2 separate regions of the Homo sapiens genome follow, and region 2 is linked to region 1. Evidence: fine-mapped expression QTL. Tissue or cell type: cerebellum. Region 1 holds a variant in brackets; the other region holds the start of a gene. All regions are shown on one strand. Distances are from middle to middle.

What was found. PIP is the estimated chance that this variant, and not a neighbour inherited with it, causes the effect.
Region 2: it holds the start of PHLDB1, and the variant in region 1 is fine-mapped to the expression of PHLDB1 in cerebellum (GTEx, PIP 0.99).

Annotation. Positions count from the first base shown.
Region 1 is chr11:118,648,183-118,656,283 of GRCh38, forward strand. PHLDB1 (pleckstrin homology like domain family B member 1) reads left to right here. Exons shown (of 23, transcript NM_001144758.3): 19 at 1,895-2,011; 20 at 2,263-2,365; 21 at 7,423-7,508; 22 at 7,678-7,710. Among named protein-coding and RNA genes, the nearest start is that of MIR6716, 8.2 kb to the left of the region's middle. The variant T/C (reference allele first, on the strand shown) is at 4,912.
Region 2 is chr11:118,602,896-118,610,996 of GRCh38, forward strand. It overlaps PHLDB1 (pleckstrin homology like domain family B member 1), which reads left to right and starts at 4,720. Exons shown (of 23, transcript NM_001144758.3): 1 at 4,720-4,804. ARCN1 (archain 1 coat protein complex I subunit delta) reads left to right here. Exons shown (of 10, transcript NM_001655.5): 10 at 1-138. It overlaps LOC124902765 (a long non-coding RNA gene), which reads right to left and starts at 5,616. Exons shown (of 2, transcript XR_007062908.1): 1 at 5,228-5,616; 2 at 4-4,293. RefSeq lists a cis regulatory region at 1,757-1,952, silencers at 5,212-5,301, 5,362-5,431, 7,947-8,006 and enhancers at 5,559-5,853, 5,891-6,565, 6,566-7,239.

The DNA.
Region 1 (8,101 bases):
CAGAAAAGATTGCTGTTGGCTTAATACTAGCAGAATTCTACCTGGGACTCATTGACCCCAAAACAGACCCACCAGGACTATTCAAGTTGTGTGTGTGTGTGTGTGTGTGTGTGTGTGTGTGTGTGTGTGTGTGTGTGTGTGTTTGTGTGCTGGGGTAGTGGGTTGTAAGGATGTGGCAGGCCACCTTGCAGACATCCGGGGTCAGAGAAGAGGGTCTGGACAGGCATCCCAGAGATGGGAGCTGGTAGTCAAGAATCAGAGTGGCTCCCCTTGGCCTCTCTCCAGGGCCTCAGATCCGCTTCATGAGCCTGCGCTGCACCTTCCCGTCTGCTTCCCCTGCTGCCCCTCCTGCATGTGGAACTTCAGGGTGTGCTGGCCCACACCCCACAGGACCTTTCAGCTCCAGTCCCCACCATCAGTGGATGACCTCACTCTGACTTTTGGTTTACATCTCCAAGACAGAATTGTACTAGTTTCTCTTCGGGACAGAAATCCTTCCTTGCCCAAAAGCCAGCCCTACCCTTTCTCCTTAAACAGGAGACTTGAGCAGAACAATTGAAAGCAGAAGGAGAAATTGGTTTGGGCTGGGAAATCTGCCCATGTCTCTGGTCCCAAATCCTAACTCCCACAACCCCCCATGAGAATCTGTAGGACTTAGATAGCCTGTCCCTTCTGATTAGTAGGCTTCCCCAGGTTGGGAGTCCCCTGGAATCTTTCCCAAGCAGTGATCACAGTTCCCTCATTTCCTACAGTGCAACAAAATAAATCCTAAGGGATAGGTCATCTGGATTGGGTTTGGGAAATAATGAGAAGGGGCTGGGCACAGTGGCTCACGTCTGTAATCCCAGCACTTTGGGAGGCCGAGGTACACAGATCACTTGAGTCCAGGAGTTCAGAGACCAGCCTGGCCAACATGGCAAAACCCCATCTCTACAAAAAATACAAAAATTAGCTGGGCGTGGTTTCACACACCTGTAATCCTAGCTTACTCTGATGGCTGAGGCATGAGAATCGCTTGAATCCAGGAGGTGGAGGTTGCAGTGAGCCGAGATCATGCCACTGCACTCCAGTCTGGATGATGGAGTGAAATTCTGTCTCAGGAAAAAAAAAAAAGAAAAAAGAAGCTCTGTGAATTTTACCCCCGTGGTTGGAATATTTGTAAAATGCTTGGCTTCCCTTTCCTGCTTCAGTCAGTGACTGTTCTGGGAGTCTCTCTTCTAGCCCCTGTCCTGGGGCTCAGGCATTGCTGCAGTGGCCACTGGTGTCTGGTGTGGGAGATGGGTAGAATCAGCTATCTGTGGGGTCGTGTGTTTTGTTTTTTTCTTTAAATAATATATGATGTTTCCTGGCCATTTTAATGTTCTTCTGGGACAGGAAGAGTAGAAAAATATTCCGGTTGACTGAGAATTCTAGTTAGTATCAGAGGTAGAGTAGACCTTAGTAATTATCTAGTTCAAAGCCGGCGTTTTACATGGAAGGAAACTGAGGCCCAGAGAAGGGATGTGACCCAAACAAGGTCCCATGCGAAGTCAGAAACTAGATTTCTTATTGGGCTTTTCTTCCCAGACCACGTTCATATCTGGCCTCTTGCTGTATTCTCTTTGGCTCAGGAGGGAAAGGAGGGGCAGGGCAAGACAAAGATGCCGTGTCTTGGTCATAGGTGGGAAAACTGAGGCACAGAGTGACTTCGCAGTTTGCCCGGCCCTAGGTAGAGTCAACATAGGCATGGTAGGTCTCCACTTTTGCCATAAGCCCTGTGGAGCCACAGTGACCGCCATGGGTTAGGGAGGTGTGATGTCAGGCTGTTGGGGTTTAGAAGTGAAGCCAAGGGGCCTGGACAGGGGAATAATGAGGGAAGAGAGGAGACTCTCCTGACCCTCCCTCTTGCTCCCAGGCACGACCCCTGACCCGCTACCTGCCAATCCGGAAGGAGGACTTTGACCTGAAGACACATATTGAGTCATCGGGCCATGGTGTTGATACCTGCCTGCACGTGGTGCTCAGCAGCAAGGTACAAGGCGTGTGTGGCCCTGGGGTGCTGGGGAGAGGGAGAATCCCGTGGTGAGAGGCACCTCCTGGGTCGTTGGAATAGTGGCGTCAGTCTCTACCCTCACCTAACCAGATCTCTGTCCCAGGACCTGGTGTGCTGGCCTGAGGAGATGTTGGGGACAATCCCCCATGAATACAGGCACAGGCGATGGCACACACTTAAGGCTTAAGGGCTGCATATTTGGGTCCTTCCTTACTCCTGCTTCCTACCAGGTCTGCCGTGGCTACTTGGTCAAGATGGGCGGCAAGATTAAATCATGGAAGAAGCGCTGGTTTGTCTTCGACCGGCTCAAGCGCACCCTTTCCTATTATGTGGGTGAGTTCCCACAAGGCCACCCTGGGGGCCAGCCAGGATCCCTGGGCTCTGTTACCCAGGACGGCTGGTCTTCTAGAAGGAGGCCAAGCTTCCAAGTAGGGGACCAGAGTCTTGGGCTAGGCTTTGCCCTCCTTCCCTGAAAATGTACACAATGTACCTGGTTCACCTCCATTTTTGTGTTCATTCATTCATTCCTTCATTCAGCAATGTTACTAAGCATCTAGTAAGTTCTAGGCACTGTTCTAGGCTCTGGTGATGAGTAAGATGGCCACAGCGCTCTCATGGAGCTTATAATCAGGGAAGCAGACAAGAGTGATAACCACGCACAATGGGTATGCTGATAGGAGACATCCAGGCACTGCAGGAGCATGGGGTCTTATGGTCAGAGTTGGGCTGGGAACTCCCCCTTGGACAAATTCCATCAGAGATTCCAAGACAAGCAGTTGAACAGTGCCAAAGAGTGCTCAGGATAGCCCAGGAACAGGCCGACTAGACCCTCTTGCTCTCTCAGCTCTCTCCGTTCCAGCATCTAGCCTAGTTTCCCATCCCTGGAACTCCCTTGTACTTTTCCCACTTGGAGCGTGGGATGCTGTGTTATACCCTAGTCAGGAGGAGGTAAGGTATGCTGCAGTAACAAGAAGTCATAAAATCCCAGTGGCTGGACAGGTGCAGTGGCTCACACCTGTGATCCCAAAACTTTGGGAGGCCAAGGTGGGCAGATAGCTTGAGGCTAAGAGATTGAGACCAGCCTGGGCAACATGGTGAAACTTTGTCTCTACTAAAAATACAAAAATTAGCTGGGCGTGGTGGCATGCACCTGTAGTCCCAGCTACTCGGGAGGCTGAGCACGAGAATTGCTTGAACCCAAGAGACAGAGGTTGCAGTGAGCCGAGACTGCGCCACTGCACTCCAGCCTGGACAACAGCGTGAGACTCTGTCTCAAAAAAATAAATTAAAAGGCCGGGCATGGTGTCTCATGCCTGTAATCCCAGCACTTTTGAGAGGCCGAAGCGGGCAGATCACGAGGTCAAGAGATTGAGACCATCCTGGCCAACGTGGTGAAACCCCGTCTCTACTAAAAATACAAAAATTAGCTGGGCATGGTGGCACGCGCCTGTAGTCCCAGCTACTCGGGAGGCTGAGGCAGGAGAATTGCTTAAACCCAGGAGGCAGAGGTTACTGTGAGCTGAGATCGTGCCACTGCACTCTAGCCTGGCGATAGAGCAAGACGCCGTCTCAAAAAAAAAAAAAAAAGGAAATCTCAGTGGCTTACAAGTACTAGGCTTCCTTATGCCCAATACATGTCGACTGCACATTGTGAGTTGGTGGGGGCTTTGCTGTGCATCAGCGTTGTCTTTGCTTCAGCATGGCTTTTGGGAACATTTCTGGCCACAGTGGCAGAGGGAAAGAGAGGCTTAAGTGAGCCCGGCCTTGGTATTAAATGTCCTAGTTGGGAAGTGACACACATCATTTCTGTCCAGAAGTCATAGATGGGGCTGTCTGCCAGTCACACAGCCTCACCTAGCCACACAGCTGGGAAGAGCAATCCTGCTAGGAGCTCAGAAGAGGGGAAAGGGCTGCAGAGTTTGGTGCCAGAGATGCTCAGGTCTGGAGTGCCCACTTCCCCCCTAACCTGGTCCCTGATCACCTGCTGGCCCCTCTAAGAAACCTTCCCTGACCACCCTGGGTCTTGGGTGTTTTGAGGAGGCAGGAGGACCAGAAGCACAGGTGTCCCATGTTTCTCTCTGGGCCAGGAAGGTAGAGGGACTAGGGACTTTGGAGAGGAAGAAACATGCCTGGGGAAAGGAGTTCCATTTTAGGCATGTTGAGATTGAAGTGCCTCTGGGACATCTAGGTTTAGGAGGATGGTCAGGATTAGAGGTGGAGTAATAGTTGAATCAGGTGGAATAATAGTAATAGCAGATCACCTTTATCAAGCACTTGCATGAGCCAGGCGCTGTGCTAAGCACTCTGCATGCATCATCTCATTAATCTTTGAAATAATCCTATGAGGGAAACACTATTTTTATGCCATTTTACCGATGAGGAAAATGATGCTCAGAGAGGTTAAGTAAATTGCCCAAGGTCCCACAGCTCCTAAGAGACAGAGATAAGACTGAACCTGGGCAGTCAGACTGCAGAGCAGAGAAGAGGGGAGGGAGAGGGCCGAACCCTGGGGCAGGCCTACCCGTGTGGGGAAGGAGAAAGAGGAGAGACCAGCAGAGGGAGAAGGGGCAGGAGACAGGAAGCCAGCACTAACCACATGCCAGGTGCTGGGCTGGTGCTTGGCATATGTGGCCTTAGTTAGCGCCTGTGGAACAAAAGGAGACTAAGTTCAGATGGCAGGAATAGAAATGGGAGCAGAAACAGGGAAGGAAGCCAGCCAAAGGAGCAGACATTCACAAGCAGGAGGTGTCACCAGCAGTGATGGATGCTGCAGGAAGGCCAAGAAAGATGTGGCCCAAAGGCTGTTAGACTCAGGGATGGGAGCTTGTCAAGAGAAGGCTTTCTGCTGTGCATGGGGCCAGGAGCCAGACTGCACAAGA[T/C]TGAGGATAGGTGGGTGGTAAGGAAGCGGAGGCAGGAGTGTGTTACTATTTCCTGTGAAGGAAGGGATGGGAGAGAACAGGAGCTGGAGGGCTGAGCAGGCCCAGAGCCAGGCAGGGCTGGTCCTTTACCAAGGAGGAAATGTCAGAAATGGGCCTGTGGCTGGATAAGGGCCATGGGTGCCTTGCCTATTCCGCTTGGACCCTCTTCCTGCCAACTCGATAGAAACCCCCTCATTGCATGGAGTCCAGATTACGTATTATATCTAGGAAGCCTTTCCTGACCCCACCTTACTAGGAGTGATTCCCACCCTCCTCTGAACCCCTGCATTATCCAGCATCTGTTTTTCCATGTGACATCAATCCAGGAGTGTAATGATATAATAACAGTGCCACGTTATGTGCCACACACTGTGCTGAATACCTTAAATGTGTTCTTTCATTTAATACTCATGACAACCTGTGATGCGTAGGTGGTCTCATGGGGTTCCTAGCCATGCCTTTAGTAGCTATTTACATAGCTGTGTGTCTGTATTTTCCTCACTGTGAGATTGTAGTTTCCTAAGAGAAGGGTCTCTGACTTCTCTCTGAATCCCAGTGTCTAGGACTCATTCCTTCAGTATTGGGTACCTACTGTGTGCCAGGCACATAGTTGTTTGTGTTGGGGGAGGTAGACCATGGAATGGATAAAGGAGGATTCAGATTCAGCATAAGTTCTATACAGAGGAGCATCTGTGCTTTGGGAACACAGGAGAGCACAACTGTGCACTGTCGTGGTGACATTTTGCAATGGGTCTTGAAGATCATTTAGGAGTTTGCTAAGGAAATGGGCTGGAGGAGATAGTTCCAGCATACAGGGTGTATTATTAAGGGAACAGTGAGAAGCTCAGATAGGACTTGGGACTCATGCAGGGGAAGGTTATGATACAAGGCTGGAGGGACATGTTGGCAGCAGTCCGTAAGTTGCCTTTACCAAGCTGCAGAGGTCGGGGAGAGGAGGAGCACTCGGGAAGGAACTTACTTCCAGCCGGCACCATTGAATTTAGTGATTCGCGTGACCTCTCCTGTAGGACGCAGGCTCACTGTTAAGGATGTCAGCTGTAGCATCTGAGCAGTGCCACAGACAAGTTGGCCCAGGCCCTGTGCTTTCCCTTGACAGGGATCCTGCCCCTTCTCACTGAATGGTCACCTCTGCTCAGGTAGTTTGCCCCTTTCCTGCCACCTCTGACCTCCAGAGGCTATATGCTATATGTATATGCTAACTGCTCTGTACACATCAAGGGAGTGTGCTTCCTATCTTTTTTTTTAAAAAATAGGTAAAAGTATTCATATAGTTCAAAAATAAAAAATATATAAAAAGGTTTAAATTGAGAATTATGCCCCACCCACTACAGTAACTAATTTTATAAATCTCTTGTGTATCCTTATAGAGTTTCTATAGGAGAATATAAACAAATACTTTTTCTTGCACAAAAGGTGGCATACAGTACATTCTTTTTACCTCCTAATGTGTCTTAGAGATCATTTTATATCAAATTTATCTATATCTAGACATTATATCTCGATATAAATTATAGACTTATTTCTGAGTCTGTATCTGTATCAGATATTTCTTTCTTTCTCTTTTTTTTTTTTTTTTTTTTTGAGACAGAGTTTTGCTCTTTTTGCCCAGGCTGAAGTGCAGTGGCGTGATCTCAGCTCACTGCAACCTCCGCCTCCCGGATTCAAGTGATTCTCCTGCCTCAGGCTCCCGAATAGCTGGGATTATAGGCATGCACCACCACACTCGGCTTATTTTTGTATTTTGAGTAGAGACGGGGTTTCACCATGTTGGCCAGGCTGGTCTCGAACTCCTGACCTCAGGTGATCCACCCTCCTCGGCCTCCCAAAATGCTGGAATTATAGGCATGAGCCACCATGCCTGGCCTATATCATTTTACTTAACAGCTGTATTTAGTCTTCCATGATGTGACACACACTAACTTATTAACCAGTCTCCACTTGATTGATATTTTGGTTGTTTCCAATCTTCTGTGACTGCAGACAATACTATACTTAATAATCTTGTGTGTGTTACTTTGTATATGTGAAAGAGAAATTCTCCTAAATGTAAGCATTGGATCAAAAGATAAATGCCTTTCTAATTTTGATAGACATGGCCAAATTGTTCATAAGGGTTTTACCAATTTATACTCCCACATGTCATTAGACTGCCTCCTTCACCATAGACTTGCCAAAAGTGTGCTGTATATTTGTTGTATGTTTTTGTCATTGGGGTAGGTGAGAAGTGGTATCTCAGTGGAGTTCTGATTTGTATTTCTCTGTGATTATGAGTGAGGCTGAGCATTATCCATATCTTTAGGATTCTGTATTGGGTTCTGTTTGGGGGTCTTGGGAGACTAGGATCTTCACCCCATTTCCCAGATTTGGAAGCTCAGGCCATGGAGCTCCACGTAAATGGAGCTAGACCTGAAGTGTGACCGGCTCCATAGCCCACCCTTACTTGCTTTGCAGACAAGCATGAGACGAAGCTGAAGGGAGTCATCTATTTCCAGGCCATTGAGGAAGTGTACTACGACCACCTGCGCAGTGCAGCCAAGGTCAGGGGTGGAGGGCACCAGAGGGGGGCCAGAGGGACAGCCATGGGGAAGGGGTGGCCTGGTGGGGCTCTGGGAGCAAAGGCCTCCAGCCTGCCCTCTACAGAGGCTCCAACCCAGTCCTTGTTCTCTTTGTCAACTTTCTCTTCCTTTCTCCCTCTCCCCTTCCCAGAAGAGGTTTTTCCGCTTCACTATGGTGACTGAGGTACCCCTCCCCACTTAGCTGTAACCAGCACATTAACACCTCCTGTACCCCACTCATCCCTGACCCTTGACCTCCCCTTCATCCCCCTCCCTTCCCCCAGGCCCAAGGGAGGAGCAGAAAGCAGGTTGCAAAGAGCAAGAAGCTCCTGTGGGCTTGGGTGCCTCTCTCTCCTTGTTGCCTCCCTCTCCTGGAAATGACAGCAGACCCCATGGGGGTCTGGTGATAGAGAAGGGATGGCCGGAAGGGGTGGAGGGGACCCTTAAAGACTAGATTTAATAGGGAGAAATTGATAAACAGGAGATATTGGAGGCTGGGGCCTGCTTCCCTAGTGCAAGTCAGCCTTCCTGCCCCCAGCCCTCTGGTGCCCACCCCAGTCCTGATCTCTGCTCCT
Region 2 (8,101 bases), 45 kb before region 1:
TTCTTTAATCAAATAAAGCGCATTATAAAATGAGATGTTTATTGGATTATTGACTCACTTTGGTGTCTGCTTGTTGATTCAGGATGCTGTAATGGGACCTAACATTAAAAATTAATGACATGTTTTTTTTAAGAGAAAGTAATCTGTGAGAGTATTCATTGCCTTTTTCCATCTTATATGTATTGTGCTTCCTTGCGTATTTTTCTACATTTGATACATGCACTCCTGACAGTGTAGCTTTTGAATTTGATGCTACTTCTGGCCTTTTTGGGGATTGGAGTCTTAATTTTGTCAGACGGCAGTTGGAGAGTCAAAAAAGTCAGGCTTCATCTTTAATCTTGGAGTCTTGGAGTCTTCTCTTCCCCATTAGACCGTGATGAGAAGTGATCCAGGGATGAGGGATAATGGGAACAATTTTTGGGAACTGTTGATAATTCCCTCAGATAAACCTGCTTACTTTTTTTTTTTGAGATGGAGTCTCGCTTAGCTGCCCAGGTTGGAGTGTGGTGGTGCGATCTCAGCTCGCTGCAACCACGGTCGCCCAGCTTCAAGCGATTCTCCTGCCTCAGCCTCCAGAGTAGCTGGGATTACAGTCACCCGCCATCATGCCGGGCTAATTTTTTTTGTATTTTCGTAGAGACGGTTTCACCATGTTGGTCAGGCTGGTCTTGAACTCCTGGTCTCAGATGATTCGCCCACCTCTGCCTCCCAAAGTGCTGGATTACAGGCGTGAGCCACCGCGCCCAGCCTTTTTTTTTTTTTTTTTTGAGACAGTCACCAGGCTGCAGTGCAGTGACATGATTTCGGCTCACCACAACCTCCACCTCCAGGGTTCAAGTGATTCTCCTGCCTCAGCCTCCTGAGTAGCTGGGATTACAGGCATTCCACACCACCACCCCCGGCTAATTTTTGTATTTTTAGTAGAGACGGTTTCACCATGTTGGTCAGACTGGTCTCAAACTCCTGACCTCGTGATCCGCCCGCCTCAGCCTCCCAAAGTGCTGGGATTATAGGCCTGAGCCACCGCGCTCCGCCAGAGCTGCTTACTTTCTTATGCTTTTTTAAAATTTAACTTGGAAAAACTATTGGGTGTCAAAAAATTGGAAGGCAAATTATTCTCACTTATTAAGTATCTGGGATGAGAAATTTCTAATGTTGAAAGCCAAGATTCTGATTTTTTTTTTCTTGGTGAAAAAAAGTATCTGGTCTAATGTTGCTCAAGTGTGGCTTAGCTGTCTGAGACTGTAGCCTTAATCGAATGAAATGATTAAGGTCTGTCATTCCTTTACTCACCATAGCTTCAAATTTGTCAACCCATGCATCTCTGATGGGAAACTTTGCCCTCCAATTAATTTTTAAATTGTGAACAGTTTTAAAGTTGTTCACACTGGCTAGGGTCTGAGATTTCCAGGGTTGATATAGAATAGCTTTTTATTAAACTTCACATCTGACAGGGCTTATTGGAAGGAGACAGGAGAAAAATGGAAAAAGTCATCCTCAAGAAGATTAAAGTCTAACTGGAAGCAATGACTATCTGCTTGTGAAGCCTTTTTTTTTCCAAGTTAGACAAGTGTTAACTACAGCTAGTACTAAACATGGATCTATATGAGAGTAGGTAACATGGCTTCTGTCTTGTAGGCTCTAGAGGAATCTCAAGCAAAACCTCACAAATGATTTTCTTTTGCTATGCACATCTGTCTTATTACAACCCCCTTACCCCCAATTCCCTTGTCCTAGAAGATCCACAAGTAGGTTGGTTGCTGTGCATTGCTGTTACCCAAGGGCAGACAGCAACACTACAAATAGCTGCCTTAACGTCTTATCCTGGGGAGTTGGGGATTGATACGGAGGTAGGCCTTTAGAAAAATTAGACTATCTTTCCAAACCAGGCTGTTTTCCCTCTCACAATCACAAGTCAAGCTATTAGGCAGTTTTCAGAAGCTTGGACCACTTCTCCCATCCCCCACCGCAGTTTTTTTGCCCTGCTGTTCTTAGGGCAGGGGCTAAGTGGTTATTTAGGGTCTAAACCAATACTGGAAAGCTTCCCTAGGTTTACTCTGGGTGATCAGATTGATTACCAAACCAGGACAGGGGCTGTTTGAAAGAAGCATTAGAAATTCAAGACAATGAGAGAAATTGAAATAGGTCTTGTCTCCCATTCTTTTGCCCAAATGAATGCTTGTTCTTTTAGCTCATTAGGAAAGCCCTTAGCCTTGGAGGTACACAAGACCAGTCTTCTGTCCTACCCAAATTTCCCACTTAGCTTGGATGCATGTTAGCTTTGGGTCGAAGCAGACTATGCAATTTCTAAGACAGCTGAAAAGAGAGCTTTGAACTTTTCCCCAAGTTGCTGCAGGGTCATTGCTACCACCACGCCTACACCAATGATGCCTGACTTCAGGATCCAGAGGCCAGAAACGGACAGCTTTCTGGAAGAGGGTGTGTATCTACAAGGATTGCTTGCTGTATGAGCAATAATCACCTCTCTGGGGCTAGAGGGAGTACAATTTGAGAGGTGGGACAAAGTGGGGAATGTGCCAAGGCAAAAGCAGGAGTATGGAAATTCACTCCTGACACTTGTAGCCAATGCAAAGGGCCTTAGAAAAATCCACTCTTCCTTCCACACCCAGGCTTTGCCCTCTCCCCCTGCTTCCACTTCGGAAAGTCTGAAGCAGGCCTGGAAAGCTGTTTTCTGCTTTCTTTCCCTCTCTTCCTCCCCCTTTCCTGAGCTCCCAGCTGCTCGACCTCTTGCGTAACTGTGAGAGAGCGCTGAGTTTTTTGATGGGCTCCAGATGTGGAGCAGGGCGGAGATGGAGAGTGGGGGCGGTAGGTCTTTAGTCCCCTGAGTGCTCTAACTGTGGGAACATAGAGGCCTGACACAGCAGGGGAGAGGACACATTGCACAGCGCCTTTATCATAGGGTCAGCTGGTCCCTGTGTTGGGAGGTCAGTGAGAGAAGTTGGGTGCTGTTTCGACCCTCTGCCTCAGCATCCACTGCCTCCATGGCAGGCTTGATTATTCCCTGAAATTCCTCCTGCCCAGTACAGTAAAGAGGAGCTGGGGGCCGTGAAACAGAATGAAGTGAAAAGCCTCTGAGGTACTGCAATCTGGACCCCTCCCCTCAGTGCTGGGTCTTGGCACATGGGATACAACAGTTTGGGTTTTTTCCTTCTTCCTTTTTTTACATACCCAAATAGCCTGAATATTACTGTTGTGATCTGCCTCATGAAGGTTCATCAGAATTACTTTCATGACTTCAAACAGTATGAAGAGAGGAAAAACTAGAGTCTCGCTCCTCAAATCCTAGGACTTCCTGGTACCCACAGCATATTCTGGATCTTGAGTGTTCCACCTCCATTAGCTATAGCAGGTGGCAGCAAAGGGCGGCCTCTCCCCTCCCCCTCCTTGTCTGCTGCTTGGCCCCGGTCAGCTTCAGTCTCCAGCCGTGGGGGGTCCCCTGCTAAGGCCAGCCCTGTCAATGAGTGACCAGAGATTCCTGTAGTTCAGCCTCCTGCTGTTCCTGGGTTAGGGAGAGACGGCACAAACTAAACTCATTGAATTAGAACAGCACTTGTCCATCTCAAAGAGGATAAATTATTTTTTGCTATCCACCCCAGCTGGAATTTAGACCAGACTTACAGGCTTTCTGCTCCTTCCTTCAGTGAAGAAGAGTCTCCAGGGTCCCTCTAGTGCAGGTCAAAGAAGTCCAGTCCAGCTGAGTTCAGCTCCCTAGGGCCTCCCCAGCCAGTCTCCTGGACCAAGAGCTGGCTTTGCAAGGTAAGGATCCACTGTCAGCGTTGGATTTCGGAGTGGAGGTTGAGATGGAGAATGACTTCAACCTAGCTCAATTTGGGGGCTGCTTTTAGGTGTTTAGTGCCTCCTTCTCTTCCTTATTAACTCCCACTCCTACTACAGGTTGGTGTGCTCAATTGTATGTCTATAGCCTGCCTCCATCTCCCAATCTGTAATCCAGCAAGTCTGTCGGGGTGGAGGGGTGTGGAGCTCCATGGGGGCAAGATGATAATTCCATTCGGTTTTCCTGTGCTTTGGAGTTTGCATGACACTTTAACGAGTCTTCTTGTGCCTATCCTTAAGAAAGTCTGTGAAGCCTGATGTGCGTGGCTATCAATGTCATTTACAGCTCTTCATGGTGGGGCTTGGAATAGGGCGAGGGGAGGAGGTGACAGGGAGAAGACCTGGGTACCCTCAGTAGATGTTCTGGAGATGTTGAGAGCATGTTGTAGGGGCTTCGATTTGGGAGGTTCAGTGGGAGCCCGTGGAGGTTTCAGGCATCTAAGGCAAAAAGAAAGAGGGGAGAGTTTGGGGGAGGGAGAACGGATTGTCAAAAACACCCTCTCAAAAGCGTGTTAAAGCCTGGGAGTGGAGGGTGGTCTAGGAGAGTCGGGAGGGCAGGGTGGGAGGAGAGGGGGATGTGTGGTGGTGGTGGTGGTGGTGGTGGTGGTGGTGGTGGTGGTGGTGGTGGTGGTGGTGATGGTGGAGAGCCCAGCTGCAAAGATGAACAAAGCGGGCGCTGTGCAGGCTGGGGGAGGTGCTGCTGTGGGAAAGGGTGGGTGGGGGGACCTTGGGCTCCAGCCCCACAAGGGCGTCTTCTTTGGCTGGCCAGGCGGACGGGACGGGGGACGGGGGCGGGGACTGGCGGGAGGGGGGCGGGACAGGCTCGCTCTCCTCCTACTTAGCGAGCTCCCGGGGAAAAGCAACGGTGTCCTCCTAAGCCTGAGGCCACCGCGACCGAGCCGAGCCAGGCTAAGGGACCAGTGTCTCCCTGCCCCCCCCCCACCTCTAGGTAAGAGCGCCCCGTCCCACTACACTTGCGGGTCCCATTCGCTGCGGTGCTAGGACTGGATAAGGGGAAGTCCCCGGGGCCTGGCGAGAGCCCTGAGATCAGCTCTAGGCTAGGGAGCTCGGCAGAAACCCGTGGGGGAGAGAGGGCACCCCAGGTGAGTGCGTGGGGGCGAAAGGAGCGTTATGGGGAGTTTTCCTGTGAGCCTCTTGCTTTTGCCTTCCTCGGCCGCTGCCAACGCCACCGCCAGAGGGGGCCGTGACGCTCTCCCCCCCTTGGAGAAACTCTGATCCTGGCCCTATCCAGACTCTCCCGCCGGCACCCAGGCGGCCGGGCGGACACTCGCGGGGTATCGGGCGGCGAGCGCGCGCGCGGGTTTTCGTCCTCCAGCGCCCCACACCTCCCCCTCTCCGCCCACAGCAGGACCTTGGGGCGGGGGTATCTCCTGTGACGTCTCCCCGCCTGTCCCCAGGCCGGCCGCCTTGATGGACCAGGAAGGGATTCGGAGTCCGGCTCAGAGTCTTGAGCGTCTAGGAGGGCTGCCTGGGGGTGTCCAGGAGATGGGAAGCCCGCCTGGGGCCTCCCAGGCACTCCCCAAGGCCCCACGTCCTCGGGGGCCGGGGAGGCCGCCTGGGGCGCCTTGCCACGCCCGCGCGGTCCCTATTGGAATCCCTAGCGGAGTTCCCCGAGCGGAGGCTGACCCAAGTCATCCGGGCTCCCCCGGGATAGGGAAGTGCGGGCGGGCGGCTGGGTAGGGGCGCCGGCGCAGGGTGGCCGAGTCGCCCGCTAGCGCTTCCGCCGAGGCAGGCTCGAGTGGGGACTTGGCCGGGCGACCGCACAGCCCTGCCGGGGACCCACGGCTCTGGGGCGGGGCTGCATTCTGGGCCGTTAGCTCAGCGGTCCTGGAGCCTCCCGAGGCTGACTCATCGGGCGGCGGGCTCACCCCCCAGCCGTCAAACGCAAACGCAGGCGCCCCACCACGCCGGGCTCCCACGCGGCACACACGCACGCCTCCGCGACACTTCGCACACCTACGTCCCTGCGTCACGCCACCCAGACACACCCGGACCCGCCCACACGCCGAGGCCTTCCCACGCACTCCATGCCTTACGCCTCACAGGAAAGCGCCCCGCGCTCACGCAGCCCCTCACACCCGCAGCCCCGCTTACACGCGCCCCAGCTCACACATGCACCCCAGTCACACAGCCTACCTCACACACGCACCCCAGTCACACACACAACCCAGCTCACACACGTACCCGTCACACATGAGGCCCCAGCTCACACACGAAGCCCAGCTCACACACGCAGCCCCAGCTCTCACACACACACCCCAGTCAAACACGAGGCCCCAGCTCACACACGAAGCCCAGCTCACACACACTGCCCCAGTTACACAGCCCAGCTCATGCAAGCAGCCCGTCACACACACAGCCCAGCTCACACACACAGCCCAGCTCACACAAGCAGCCCGTCACACACACAGCCCAGCTCACACACACAGCCCCAGTTATACACACACAGCCCAGCTCACACACGCAGCCCGTCACACACACAGCTCAGCTCAATACACAGCCCAGCTCACACACACAGCCCCAGTTACACACACAGCCCAGCTTACACACACAGCCCAGCTCACACACACAGCCCATCACACACACAGCCTATCACACACACAGCTCAGCTCAATACACAGCCCAGCTGACACACGCAGCCCAGCTCACACATACACTCCAGCTCACACACGCAGCCCGTCACACAGCCCCAGCCACACACACAGCCCAGCTCACACACGCAGCCCAGCTCACACATGCAGCCCCCTCACACATGCAGCCCCAGTCACACACACAGCCCAGCTCACACCGCAGCCCCAGCTCACACACGCGGCCCCTCACACACATTCAGCCGCCCTTCCCGCAGCTGCCAGGCTCGGAACGGGCGGTGTCTGTGGGGGCCGCCCCGTTTCCCGGCCGCGCAAACAAGCGGCTCCTTCTCTCTGCCCCGCCAAAGAAAGGCCGCTTGTCAGGGGCGGGCGGGCAGGCGGCAGCGGCAGGCGCCCAACACTGCGGCCTTGTCCCACGCGGGCAGCCTGGGCAGGAGCAGGCCGAGGGGTGCAAGGGGCCGCTACCTTGCGGAAACCTCCCTCCCTCGGCCCTGCGGACCGCGGAGAGGCACCTTTCCACCACCGGACACCCAAGCAACAGCCCTCGCTCCATCCGCGCTCTCCCGGCTCCCCCTCTCCTCGGGCCGCCCATCTCTCCTCTCTTCCGCCTTTGGGGTCCCGGTGGGCCCCAGCCTCCCTCTCCTTCGCCCCATCTCCCCGCCCGTCAGCCTCCCCTCCGCTGCCCTCGCGCATCCCCAGTGTTCCCGTCTGTCGTCGCCTCCACTTGAGGACCCGCCTGTCCTTTCTTCCCCCGACCCCTCCACCTCTGTGTTCTTCAGTCTCCCCGCATCCTCTGCCCTCGGTCTTCCCCTCCCCAGCTTGCATTTTTTCCCATCTCTTAGTCTGCCTTTCATTTTCCCCTTCACATCCCGGTGGCTCCCCTTCCCCGCCCCGTCCCTCTGCACACCCCCATTCATCTCTGTCAGGTTTTTCTCATCCTTAAGTTCTCTCGTCCCCCTCCCCACTCGGGCGTCCCCCGCTGGGCTCCCCGCCTCAGTTTCCTTCCCTTCCTGACTCCTTCCTCTGACGGCGGCCCTTTCTCGAGGGCGGATGTGCGCCTGGAGGGCGAAGGCGGCGGCCGAGAGGACCCCAGCTCGGCCTGGCGGGCCTCTGGCCACAGCCATGCACCGCTTGGGCCGAGGCCGAGGCCGACCCCCAGGGACACAGGTGAGGCCGGGCGACCCGCGGGGCTCCGGGGAGCGCCCGAGCAGTGGCCCCGCGAAGGGCCGGGTCTGGTGCTCTGGGGCTGGCTTTGGACCTCTCGTCCTGGGACTCCGTGGGAGCCCGGGAGCTGTGTCAGTGCCCGTTGGTGCTGGAGCCAGTCGGCCCTTCCTTGGCCTCCTTCAGGCGGGGGCCAAGACCCCCGAGAGTTCACTCTGGGTGCTCCACTCGGCGGAGAGGGCTTCAGACTGGTGTCCCGCGTGGCTGGGGTGTCGGCGCATTCCCGCGGGGGAGGAGGCCGAGGGCCCGGGCCGGGGTCACCTGCCGGCGCCCCGGCCTTGCGCACAGAGGGCCTTGCCTGTCGCTCGTCAAATCCAGACACCTGGGCCTCCGCCACTCGGCTGCCGGGGCGGCACTGGGGCGTCTGTACCCAGCGTGCGGGAGGGCACCCAGGGCCGGACGCGCACCGCAGGGGT